2 separate regions of the Homo sapiens genome follow, and region 2 is linked to region 1. The links come from fine-mapping of genetic effects on plasma protein levels. Region 1 holds a variant in brackets. A gene starts in the other region. All regions are shown on their forward strands.

Region 1 (5,378 bases):
ATTCATATATGAATAGATGAATAACTATATAGATATAAATATTCATTATATAATTACATCTATAACATGTAATACATATTTATATATACATTATATAATATATAATTTATATTATGTTAATATATTACATAATATATTATATAATAGGCAAATATATAATATATATAATATATAATATAATAAATATATTATCATATTAATATAACATATATTATAAATATATATTTCCCAATTATATTATATGTAATACCATATATATTTGGCAATTATATAATATATAATATAAATATATGTATAATTATATGTAATTTATATTATGTTAATATATTATATATTATATTAGTTGGCAAATATATTATATATTATATATTTTATATATCATAGAATTGGCAATATATAATATTAAATATATTTATATTATTATATAATATATAATTATATATATATATATGGCACAGGCATAGTACAAAAGTGAGTGATTAACTCTTTTGGGGAAGTGGGTAATCAAGGTAGGAATACAGAAAAGATGACAATGAATCAGGGTTTTGAAAATGAGCAGAATCTGGGGTAAGGTCATTCCAGGATGGAAAATATCATGTTAAAAAGCATGAAGGTATGAACAATATGGAACTGAGAGCAGTTTTAATTTTTCATAAAGACAACATTTATTTTTCACCTTAACATTTATTTTTAATATGCCTTACTTAGGTTAAGAGAAAACAAAGATTTAAAAAGCCAAGTGTCCCTTTTATTATTATACTTTCTTTTCACATAACCTTTTCAGCCTAGATTCAGGTAACTTCCTGTCTCTCCCATTAAAGGAGAGGGGTCCTGCACATTACAACAGGCAAAAAAGGCTTTCAGGAAATAAAATGTTTTAATTTGATCTATTACATCTGTTCAATTTTCTTGAGTACCTTCGAGAGTGGGAAAAAGACAAAAGGAGAAAAAAATGGTATTTTAAACAAACAGACTATAATAACCTTAGTTAGGTTGGTAGTACACTATTTATGCTTTTTCTCTAAACAGGTACAAAGGAGGTTCAAAAAGAAGAGGCTGGAGAGGCATGTAGCCGGTAGCATCCGACTCATCAATTTCTTCCTTTATTTTTCTGATCGCATAAATTGATCTGGCTTTCACAACCTACCCAAAATATAACATTGAATTACTATCTATACAAATGAAGTAAAAATTTATTGTTTGCTTTGGCAGTAGTGACCTGGATTAATATTATTAGTGAGACAATATATATTGTTTATGAAACATTTTGCTTTTCTCCCTTTCACTTTGAACTAGAGATGAAGCTTGATTTTGTTTTTTCTTTAAGTTTCTAACCTTTGATTTATTTTTTTTTAGCATATAGAAGTGATAATAAATATTTTGTGGATTACTATATTTTAAACCGTGGTTACCTTGGGAAGATTTATTTAATCTCTGAAAAAGGAAAACCACCTAGTACATGTCTATGAGTGATTTAGACTAACTGACACTATTTAGTCTATAAAATACCCCTGACAGGTGTAGTGGGCCAGAAGGGAGGTGAACACTGAAGCATACTCAGTGCAATGAGGAATGAACAATATTCCCTATGGCTACATTTGTGCACCATGGGAAGTCTGTTTGCTTTCTGGGCAATGTTCAAAAGGGATTGGTTTATCATGAACTGCACGAAATGTTGGTATGTATATTTTCCAGAAAAAAAAAAAAGCTCACATTCATCAGAGATAATGAAGCCATAGGATTTGTGGCATTTTCTGATGTTACTTTCTTTTTTCTTAGTCTGCACAGTCTCTCTGAGAATCTCATCTACTTCCATGGCTTGAACTACTGCCTGTGTCCTGATCAAGCCAATATAGCCAAACCAGATCTCAATCTCAGCATCAGCTTTTGTTTTACATAACACAACTAGCTACAAACGTGGATTTTCTACAGCAACCTAACTTTTCTTTTTCCAGGATTTTCACTGTGGTTATATCATCCATTTACATCATCTATTTATTATCATACCCACTTATTATTATCATCTACTTACTGTATAGTGGAGAATATGTGATATAGTTAGGAATATGCCGGCAAAGCACAGTCACGCAATCTGAGCCCAGAACTGCTTTTCTAGACCGCTCTCATCTATAAGACCCATATCTGACTGCACAAAAACTCCTGATTTCCTTTGATCCATTCCTTCCATTCTATTCCAATTTTTGGACTTCGGCTTATTTTTATCTACTCCAGCCAGGCATCTTGGGTAACAGCAATGGTGCAGACAATTAAGAGGAAAATCCAAGGGCATTAAGAGAGAGGACAAATTAATAGCATCTAAAACACAGCATTTTAACAAAGAATCGTAGGGAAAAAGTCAAACAGTAGAAGATACCTTTTTTCAGGAAAAAAAAAAAAAAACACCACACACATAAACTTGAAAAACATGATATTCAG[T/C]GGGTGAGTAGAGGAAGAAGACTCAGCACAAAAGACAAGGAAGAACTTTTTGACGCTGCAAGAGAAAAACAAGAAGCAGTCAGGGTCATGGAAAAGAACAAAGAAGTTCGTGGCCTGCAAGAAATCCATAACCTGCCACATAGAATTTAAGTTGTTTTTCCTGTGTGGTAGAAGCAGAAATAAAACCTTGCAAGATTGGCAGTAATAAATGTATAAAAATGAAAGTCCCTGAGTGCATAAATGAAAGTTGTTCATGCTCACGGTTTTTTGTTGAGAAGAGAGATACTGATGATTGCACTGAGATAGCACATCCAGGGGAGTTTTATTTATTTCTGGGTATTCCTCCTCATCTCCCCAACGTCTCAACAGCAGAGTGAGCCAGGGTCCAGTTTCTGTTCTGTTTTCTCTCCTATTTTCACTCCCTTGGTGATCTCACTAGCCTCATTGCTTTAAATATAATCTAGAAGGCTGATGACTCTTAAGTCTTTATCTCTTGCCCATAGCTCGTCTCTCAACTACAAACCCATATATGCACTGCCTAACAACACCCCTGCTTAGAATTCTAATATGGTGCAAACCTAGAGGTCTTCTTTTCCTCGCCTTTTCTCATCCACTACATCCAATCTCTCATCCAACCCTGTTGCTTTGTTTTCAAACGCTATGTAGAAACTGAGGGCTTCTTGTCACTTCCTTGCTAGCATCCTGTCCAAGCCCCATCATCCCTTTCACCGTGACATTTCTTTTTTTTTTTTTTGAGACAAGGTCTTGCTCTCTTGCTCAGGCTGGAGTGCAGCCGTGTGATCACATCACTGCAACCTTGACCTCCTGGGTTCAAGTGATTCTTCCACCTCAGCCTCCTGAGTAGCTGGGTCTACGGGTGCATGCCACCATGCCCATCTAGAGATGCAGTCTTACTATGTTGCCCAGGCTGATCTCAAACTCTTTAGCCTCAAGCAATCTACCCACCTCAGCCTCCCAAATTTTTGGCATTACACACATGAGCTATTGAGCATGGCCTCACCTTGTTGATTTTAATAGCTCCCTGACTTTCACGCTTACATTCTTGAATTAATTCTCCACACACTTCCCAGAAGAATCCTCTTAAAAAGTAAGGCAGATTGAGTCACTCCCATGCTCAAAGCCCCTGAATGCCTTCTCGTCTCACTCAGGCCGTCATTAAAGTCTGACTCAAAAAAGCAGACCACCTGTAATTCCTGCACTTTGGGAGGCTGAGGCGGGTGGATCACCTGAGGTCAGGAGTTCGAGACCATCCTGGCCCAATGATGAAACCCTGTCTCTACTAAAAATACAAAAAATTAGCTGAGTGTGGTGGCGGGTACCTCTAATCCCAGCTACTCAGAAGGCTGAGACAGGAGAATTGCTTGAACCTGGGAAACAGAGGTAGCAGTGAGCCAAGATCAGGCCACTGCACTCTAGCCTGGGCAACAAGAATAAAACTCTGTCTCCAAAAAAAAAAAAAAAAAAAAAAAAAGGAAAGAAAGAAAAAGCAAGCAAGCAAGCAAGCTGACTGTTCCTGAACATCCATTTTCAACCTACAACCCCTTGGGGCTTTGTCTTCCCCACCCTGGCTTCATTTTCTTTCCCCCAAAAACATATATTCCTTATTTGTCTTGTCTATCATCTGTCTTCTCTCATCCAAGCCAGATCCATGATGTGGACTTTTGATCTCTTTGGTTCAGGGATCAGAGAGTTCCTGAAGGTGCTCATTACATACATAATGCCGTATTTAAAATTACATAAATAAATGAAAGGCAAGATATTTTTCAAGATGACTGGATTTTATATCTTAGGTTATGCCTCAAGAAAACTTTGTGGTTCACTAAAGTAGGGATTTTAAAAATTCTTCTGTTACATATTGGAAAATAAAATATTTCTCTCTGCACTGCACGTAACTAGCAAACTGAAACAAAAAATATTACCCTCAGTGAACCCACTTTGCTTCAAAAGCATTTATTATTAAAATTACCAGATTATTTCAGCTGCTTACTCTGGTTATAATCATTGTAATTTTTTAGTAACGTGAACATACATACTTGCATGAGCCTTCATTAGCAGGCAGTGAACAACTCACACTGTTCAAGTGTGCCTTTTAATATCAGTTCCACAGTTAGGACAAAAAGTAGCTTCACATAAAGTTACTCTTCCTATTAAATGTCAGTGTGCTGATAAACGATTGTAAAATCCTTGGAGTTTGTGTAATCTATTAAAAGCACGTGCTCATGAGAAGTGAAACACGTTTCTGTAATATCAGCATTTTATCAAGTGGATGAAAAGTTTACAGGAAATTCATAATGAAAGAATTTCAAGGTTAATTTGTTGGGAACCATATACCTTACTTTTTTGTTTTTATTATAAAACATTTTAATAATATTATAGATATGTTAGGATGAAATTTCTGTCATCTCATCACCCTAATAAAGGAAAAAAACCCTTAATTTTTTAAATGAAACTCGAGTCTTTGGATGTATGTATACCTGTAACATAGTTCATATCATCATGCACGTATCATTTGGTATTACGCGTTTTCCTTAAAATCACCTCATTATTTTAATATTTCAAACGAATTTTTCAAACTTGAAATTTTTTTTATTATTCTTTAGGTTCTGGGATACACGTGCAGAACGTGCAGGTTTGCTACATTGGTATACATATGCCATGGTGGTTTGCTGCACCCATCAGCCCATCATCTAGGTTTTAAGTCCCACATGCATTAGGAGTTTGTCCTAATGCTATGCCTCCCCTTGCCTCCCACCTACTGACAGGCCCCGGTGTGTGATGCTCCCCTCCCTGTGTCCACGTGCTCTCACTGTTCAACTGTCACTTATGAGTGAGAACATGCAGTGTTTCTTTTTCTGTTCCTCTGTTAGTTTGCTGAGAATGATGGTTTCCAGCTTCATCCATGTCCCTGCAAAGGACATCAA
Region 2 (5,378 bases), not on the chromosome of region 1:
AGCCCCAGGGTGCACCAGCCTTCCACACTTCTGCTTTTGGTATTTCCCAGGGGCTCAGCTCACCTTGGGTTCCTGCAACCAGCAGCCACACCCAGAAGAGCCTCGGAGGGGTCATGGCCGTGCCTGGATGCCCAGATCCTGCAGCAGACAGAAGCGGAGGGGTGAGGCACGGGAGCCAGATGGCCCGAGGCCCCAGGGACTGGCCTGCCCATTCACCCTTCAGCCCAACCTGGGCTGTGTGGCAGGCGGGGTCCCTCTCTTGCAGAGCCCACTATGATCCCAGTAAGTGTGACGTGTGCTGTGGATGCCCCCGCGGGGGCCCCTCACCTGGTCTGCAGTGTGGTCCTGGAAGGATGTGTAACACTTGGCTAGATGAAGCGTGGGCTGGGGGCACCCCCTGGCAGTAAGGGCAGCAAGAATTGGTGACTAGAGGCAAGTGAGCTCATCTCAAAAAACCAGGCCCCGGGCAAGGCTGCCACACGGGCATGGGCGGGGAGATGGAGGAGGCCACAGGCGTGGGCCCAGGTCGGGAGGCCGGGTGAGCCTGGTTAAGATCTCGGCCTTAAGCTTCAGGCAACAGACCCCTGCAGGGACTGTCCCAGAGGGTCTCAGCAGGCAGAGACGAGGCTGCAGCCTGGAGAGTGGATGGGAGGGGACTCGTCAGGAGAGGGCACAGAATCCGGGCGAGGGGTGACAGAGATAAGTGGCAGGGAGATATATCGGGGCTCCGTGGTGTTCCGATGGGGAAGATAGATGAAAAGGGTCAGGGCTGCAGCCCAGGGTGGGCCAGGCTGGGGGAAGAACAGGGAGGAAATGCTGAAGTATCCCCAAGACACTGACACTCAGGCCAGGACTGGGGAGGTCCGGGTCTCCACCTTCTGGCCTGGTGTTCTTGCCTCCGTGTAATTTCCACGCTTTTGTCTTCGTCTGCCTCCCTCCCCCACACCCTGCCAATGGAGAGACAGTTATGGTTTCTCTGGCTCGGTAAGAATCCTGTGATACCTGACACTGTCCCCTCAGTTCAGCAAGCCTGGGGCAGGCCTCTGGGTGGCACTGCTGTGGGCACCGGCTGGGAGTCTGGGCCTGGTGACCTTGAGGCTGCTTGGAGGGGGCCTGGTGGACGGCTGCAATGGCATCCCCAGAGCTTGTCGGAAATGCAGTCATGGCTGGCCTTGCCCTAGCCCCTCTGCATGGGAGTCTGCATGAACAAGCGCCCTGGGAGCTGGGTGCACTGGCTGGTGAGCAGCTTTGCTCTGGGACTCGTGCTCGCTGGCACTGTGCAGCCACCCCTTGTCGGGGCTCCCCGGGCACCACTGGAGGCCTTACCGTGACCCTGAGAACCACCTTAGTTACACCTCACCTTACAAGTGAATGAGCTGACACCCAGAGAGGCAAATGGGCTCCACATCCACAGTCAGTGAGCCACAGGCAGGGGGTCTGCTCGGGGGAGCCCACCTCTCCTCCCTGTGTCAATGTCAGTAGATGGCTAAAGGGGCCAGGGTGTGACCGCCTGTCCTGTGTGCTGGGGACTGTGCTGGTTTTAGCACTGAAGTTTCCCTGTGTCCTGGGAAACCCCTCAGTCCCAGGCACGCCGGTATGGGTGGACGCCCTCTCCACTTCTGCCCCCAGCCACTTCACTCTGCTGCAGCCACTAGGTTTGTCCGTCCTGGGAGAGTAACTCAGGGCCTTGGAAAAATGGCCAACTGGCCAGGCGCGATGGCTCACGCCTGTAATCCCAGAACTTTGGGAGGCTGGGGCAGGTGGATCACTTGAGGTCAGGAGTTCAAGACCAGCCTGGCCAACATGGTGAAACCCCGGCTCTACTAAAAATACAAAATAATAATAATAATAAGCTGGGCATGGTGGTGTGCACCTGTAGTCCCAGCTACTCAGGAGGCTGAGGCAACAGAATTGCTTGAATCCGGCAGGCAGAGATTGTAGTGAGCCGCTGCACTCCAGCCTGGGTGACAGAGCAAGACTCTGTCTCAAAAAAAAAAGGGGGGGGGGCAACGAAGCACCTGGCAGGTGGCGTCGCTGCCCTTTGTGTGGCAGCGGCTATTTTTGCCTGATTCCTTCATACAGTTGAGACCCGGCTGCCTGTGTTGGCCCCTTCGTGCAAATCAGAAAAAAAGGTGCTCTTCCTTGGAGTGGGTGCAGGCCTAGGCCAAATGCACAGGTCTGAGAGAGGGCCAAGCTGAATTCTAACCCACTTGCCCTTTGGCTGGTATCCTTGTGCAGTGAGTAATCTGCCCAACTGTACACAGAGGCCCTGTGGGCCTGGGAGCAGCAATGATTGTTGCTGGACTCAGGAGCCCTGGATCCCCAGCTCCAGGCCTATGTGCAAACAGGGAGGCATGACCCCCACTTGCCTGTGTAGAGAGAGGGGTGCCCTGGCCGGGCGCGGTGGCTCACACCTGTAATCCCTACACTTTGGGAGGCCGAGGCGGGTGGATCACCAGAGGTCAGGAGTTTGAGACCAGCCTGGCCAAGATGGCGAAACCCTGTCTCTACTAAAAATACAAAAATTAGCTGGGCGTGGTGGCACGCGCCTGTAATCCCAGCTACTTGGGAGGCCGAGGCAGGAGAATCGTTTGAACCCAGGAGGCAGAGGCTGCAGTGAGCGGACATTGCATCACTGTACTCCAGCCTGGGTGACAGAGTGAGACCCTGTCTCAAAAAAAATAAAAATAAAAAAGAGAGAGAGACTGAGAGGGGTGCCCACCTGAGAGCTAGAGGCAGGAGCTTACCTGGCTGCGGTAGCTGCAACGGCCGTGTGGAGCCTCCTCGCTTCCAGCCACAGGATCCCTCTGCAGACTGGTCCTTTGACCCAGAAGCCTCTCCCAGTATGGAGCGTGGTCAGGCTGATCCCAGGAAATGCTTCAGAAAAGAGTCTACTTTCGATTTCCAGAAACCACCTGACATAGATGTCTTCCGGGATTGGCTGCTGCTGATACTCCCCAGGGCCCCTCTCTTTTGTCTCAGCTCTGCCTGTGGCTATCAGTGCCAGGCTGGCAGAGGCCCAAGGTGGGAGTCTGGCTGGAGCAAGGCCTGCAAGAGGACTAACAGCCACACTCAGTTGGAAAGGCCGCCAGGCTGGTCAGGGGCTGGCGTTTGGTGGACGGGAGGGGAAGAAGCAGAGGCTCTGGGCCCAGACAGTCTGCACCTGGTGGTGTGGCTGTGGACTCTGACAGAGCGCTCCGAGTCTTTTCCTGGGTCTAGCACGTTGCTGGCTGGGTGAACACCACACAGGGGGCTGCTTATGTGCAAATCCACCCTCTCTGTGCTCTTGGCATGCTGACCACACAGAGGGCCTGTGCCCCACAAGGTTGCATGGCACTGTCCCCTGTCCCCAGGGGAGGGAGGCACTGAGAACCAGGTATGCAGCTGGCCAGTGGAGGAGCTGGACCCTGCTCCAACACCTGACCCCAGAGCCTGTGCTCGCCACTGCTGGACCTGTGGCCACTCTCCTACTGTCTCCCCCTCAGCGGGGCGGGGGACAGAGCCTCTCTGGGTGACATAATGGCTCTGTCCAGCTCATACCCATTCCCTTTCCTCCCACTGAAAGCCGGCACCTCAACTGTCCCTTGGGGAGCACCCCCTCCCATTCCCGGCTGTGTGGTTCCCAGAGGGCCCCCAGCTCTTGGCCTTCAACCACCCAAGGCCTGGCTGTCTGAGCCCTGCGGGGGCCCCGGGCCACACTGCTGGTTTCAGGGTGGGGCTGTGAGCCCAGCCAGCCGGTGAGAGCCAGCTTCTGACTGAGAGGATGTGGGCCCAGGCTGCTGGGGCCGGTGGGGCAGAGCAGAGGGAAGCAGGCATCCTCCGGCCTGAGCTCCTGGGTCCAGCTGGCCTAATCCATGGTCAAGGCTGGGCTTCACCGCTCAGTGAGGCAATCAGCAGCCGCTCTTGTTTCTGTCACTTGCACCCCATGGTTCTGGATGAGCCTTGGGATGTGCCCAGGCCTCTGACCAGTGGTTCTCAGCCTGGGCTGGACAGAAGAATCATCAGGGAGTTTTACAAACTCCTAATGCCTAGACCCAGGAAGTCACCATCTCTGGGAGTAGGGGACAGGCAGGGGCATTTAAAAGCCCCCAGGCAGTCCCACTGGGTGGAAGGCCCTGGTTCCCTGGCAGCTTAGAGTCCGAGACAGCCAGCCCAGAGGTCAGACATTCAATGACTATTTCCTTCAAGGTGTGAGGTTTTAGGCAGCTGCACGGTTTGCCTAATCCCCTCCAGAGGAACTGTGAAGATCCAGGGGCAGGTGCAGCTGGAAATAGAACTGGCTGTGGGGAGTTTAAAAAAATCTCATCTGGATTAAGGGCCTGAGTGCACAGAAACCCCAGCATCATCCCTTCTCAGCAGTGCTAATGACTTCTGCCCAAGTGGCCAGGGAAGGACAGGAGTGCAGAGGACGGGAGGGCATCTCTGGGAAGTGCTGGGAAAGGTTTTAAAACTCAGGTGCCGAATCTTTAGCCCCAGAGTCCGGGAAAGTCCTAAGCCATCCAGGCAGGTAAAATGGAAAACCCAGAGGCCTCCTCGTGGAATCGGAGCACCAACATCTGCTCCCCTGGGGCTCGCAAGGCCTTTCCGGTGTGCGATGACCATGGGGTGGAGGGAAGCGCTGACAGGGGACAGGCAGGGGAAGGGGCAGCGGCTCGGCTCTGAGAAGACAGCTGGGTGAAAGCCTCAGATTCGTGTGGACAGAACTGCTGTCATCAGGAAGCCGCTCCCAAGACATGGTAGGGAAAGTGCGGGGCATTTCAGAGATGAGAATGGTTAACTGGCCTGTAAGGTCATCTTTTGTGCCTCTACCCCAAACCTCTCCGCAAATTGAGGAACGCTCCCTATAATAGCTAATATGGATTTCGCCAGGCATTACTATAAGCCTTGCCACAAATGAATGCATTTAATACTTCCAGCCATGATGGGAAGCAGCTGCTCTTATATTCCCTGTTACAGATGAGAAAACAGAGGCTCAGTGAGGCGACGTAATCGGCTAAAGTTGTGCAGCTGGTAGGGGAAGAACTGGGGTTTCAAACCCATCCTTTCCTTCTTTTTAAAAATTGGCTTTCTTGGCATATAATTTACGTGCAAAGTTTTGGCAAATGTGTAGCGATGGTATCATGACAACAATCATTACCTAGGGCGTTTCAATCACCCCTAAGAATTCTCTTATGCCCCTCTGCAGCCACCCCTCCCCCCAGCCCCTTCCCAGCAACCACCTCTCAGCTTCTGCCACTGCTGGTTGCCTTTCCTAGAATTCCCTCTATTTTGTCTTCTTTTTTAAGACACAGTCTCCCTCCATTGCCCAGGCTGGAGTGCAGTGGAACAATCTCGGCTCACTGCAATCTCTGCCTCTCAGGTCCAAGTGATTCTCCTGC

Which allele goes with the higher level. Positions count from the first base shown, and alleles are read on the strand shown. Strength reflects both the effect of a copy and how common the allele is.
For the plasma level of the protein whose gene starts at base 2,847 in region 2, allele C in region 1 goes with a lower level than allele T (weak association).

What was found. PIP is the chance, under the fine-mapping model, that this variant and not a neighbour inherited with it causes the effect. The UK Biobank Pharma Proteomics Project read protein levels with antibody pairs (Olink). The fine-mapping took linkage between variants from a reference panel, not from the people measured, so its PIPs are less certain.
Region 2: it holds the start of LGALS3BP, and the variant in region 1 is fine-mapped to the plasma level of the LGALS3BP protein (UK Biobank, PIP above 0.99).

The regions. Positions count from the first base shown.
Region 1 is chr8:16,183,462-16,188,839 of GRCh38, forward strand. All of the region lies in intron 1 of MSR1 (macrophage scavenger receptor 1), which reads right to left. Among named protein-coding and RNA genes, the nearest start is that of MSR1, 6.5 kb to the right of the region's middle. The variant T/C (reference allele first, on the strand shown) is at 2,437.
Region 2 is chr17:78,977,077-78,982,454 of GRCh38, forward strand. LGALS3BP (galectin 3 binding protein) reads right to left here and starts at 2,847. Exons shown (of 6, transcript NM_005567.4): 1 at 2,748-2,847; 2 at 64-138. The coding sequence starts at 115. RefSeq lists an enhancer at 2,881-3,873.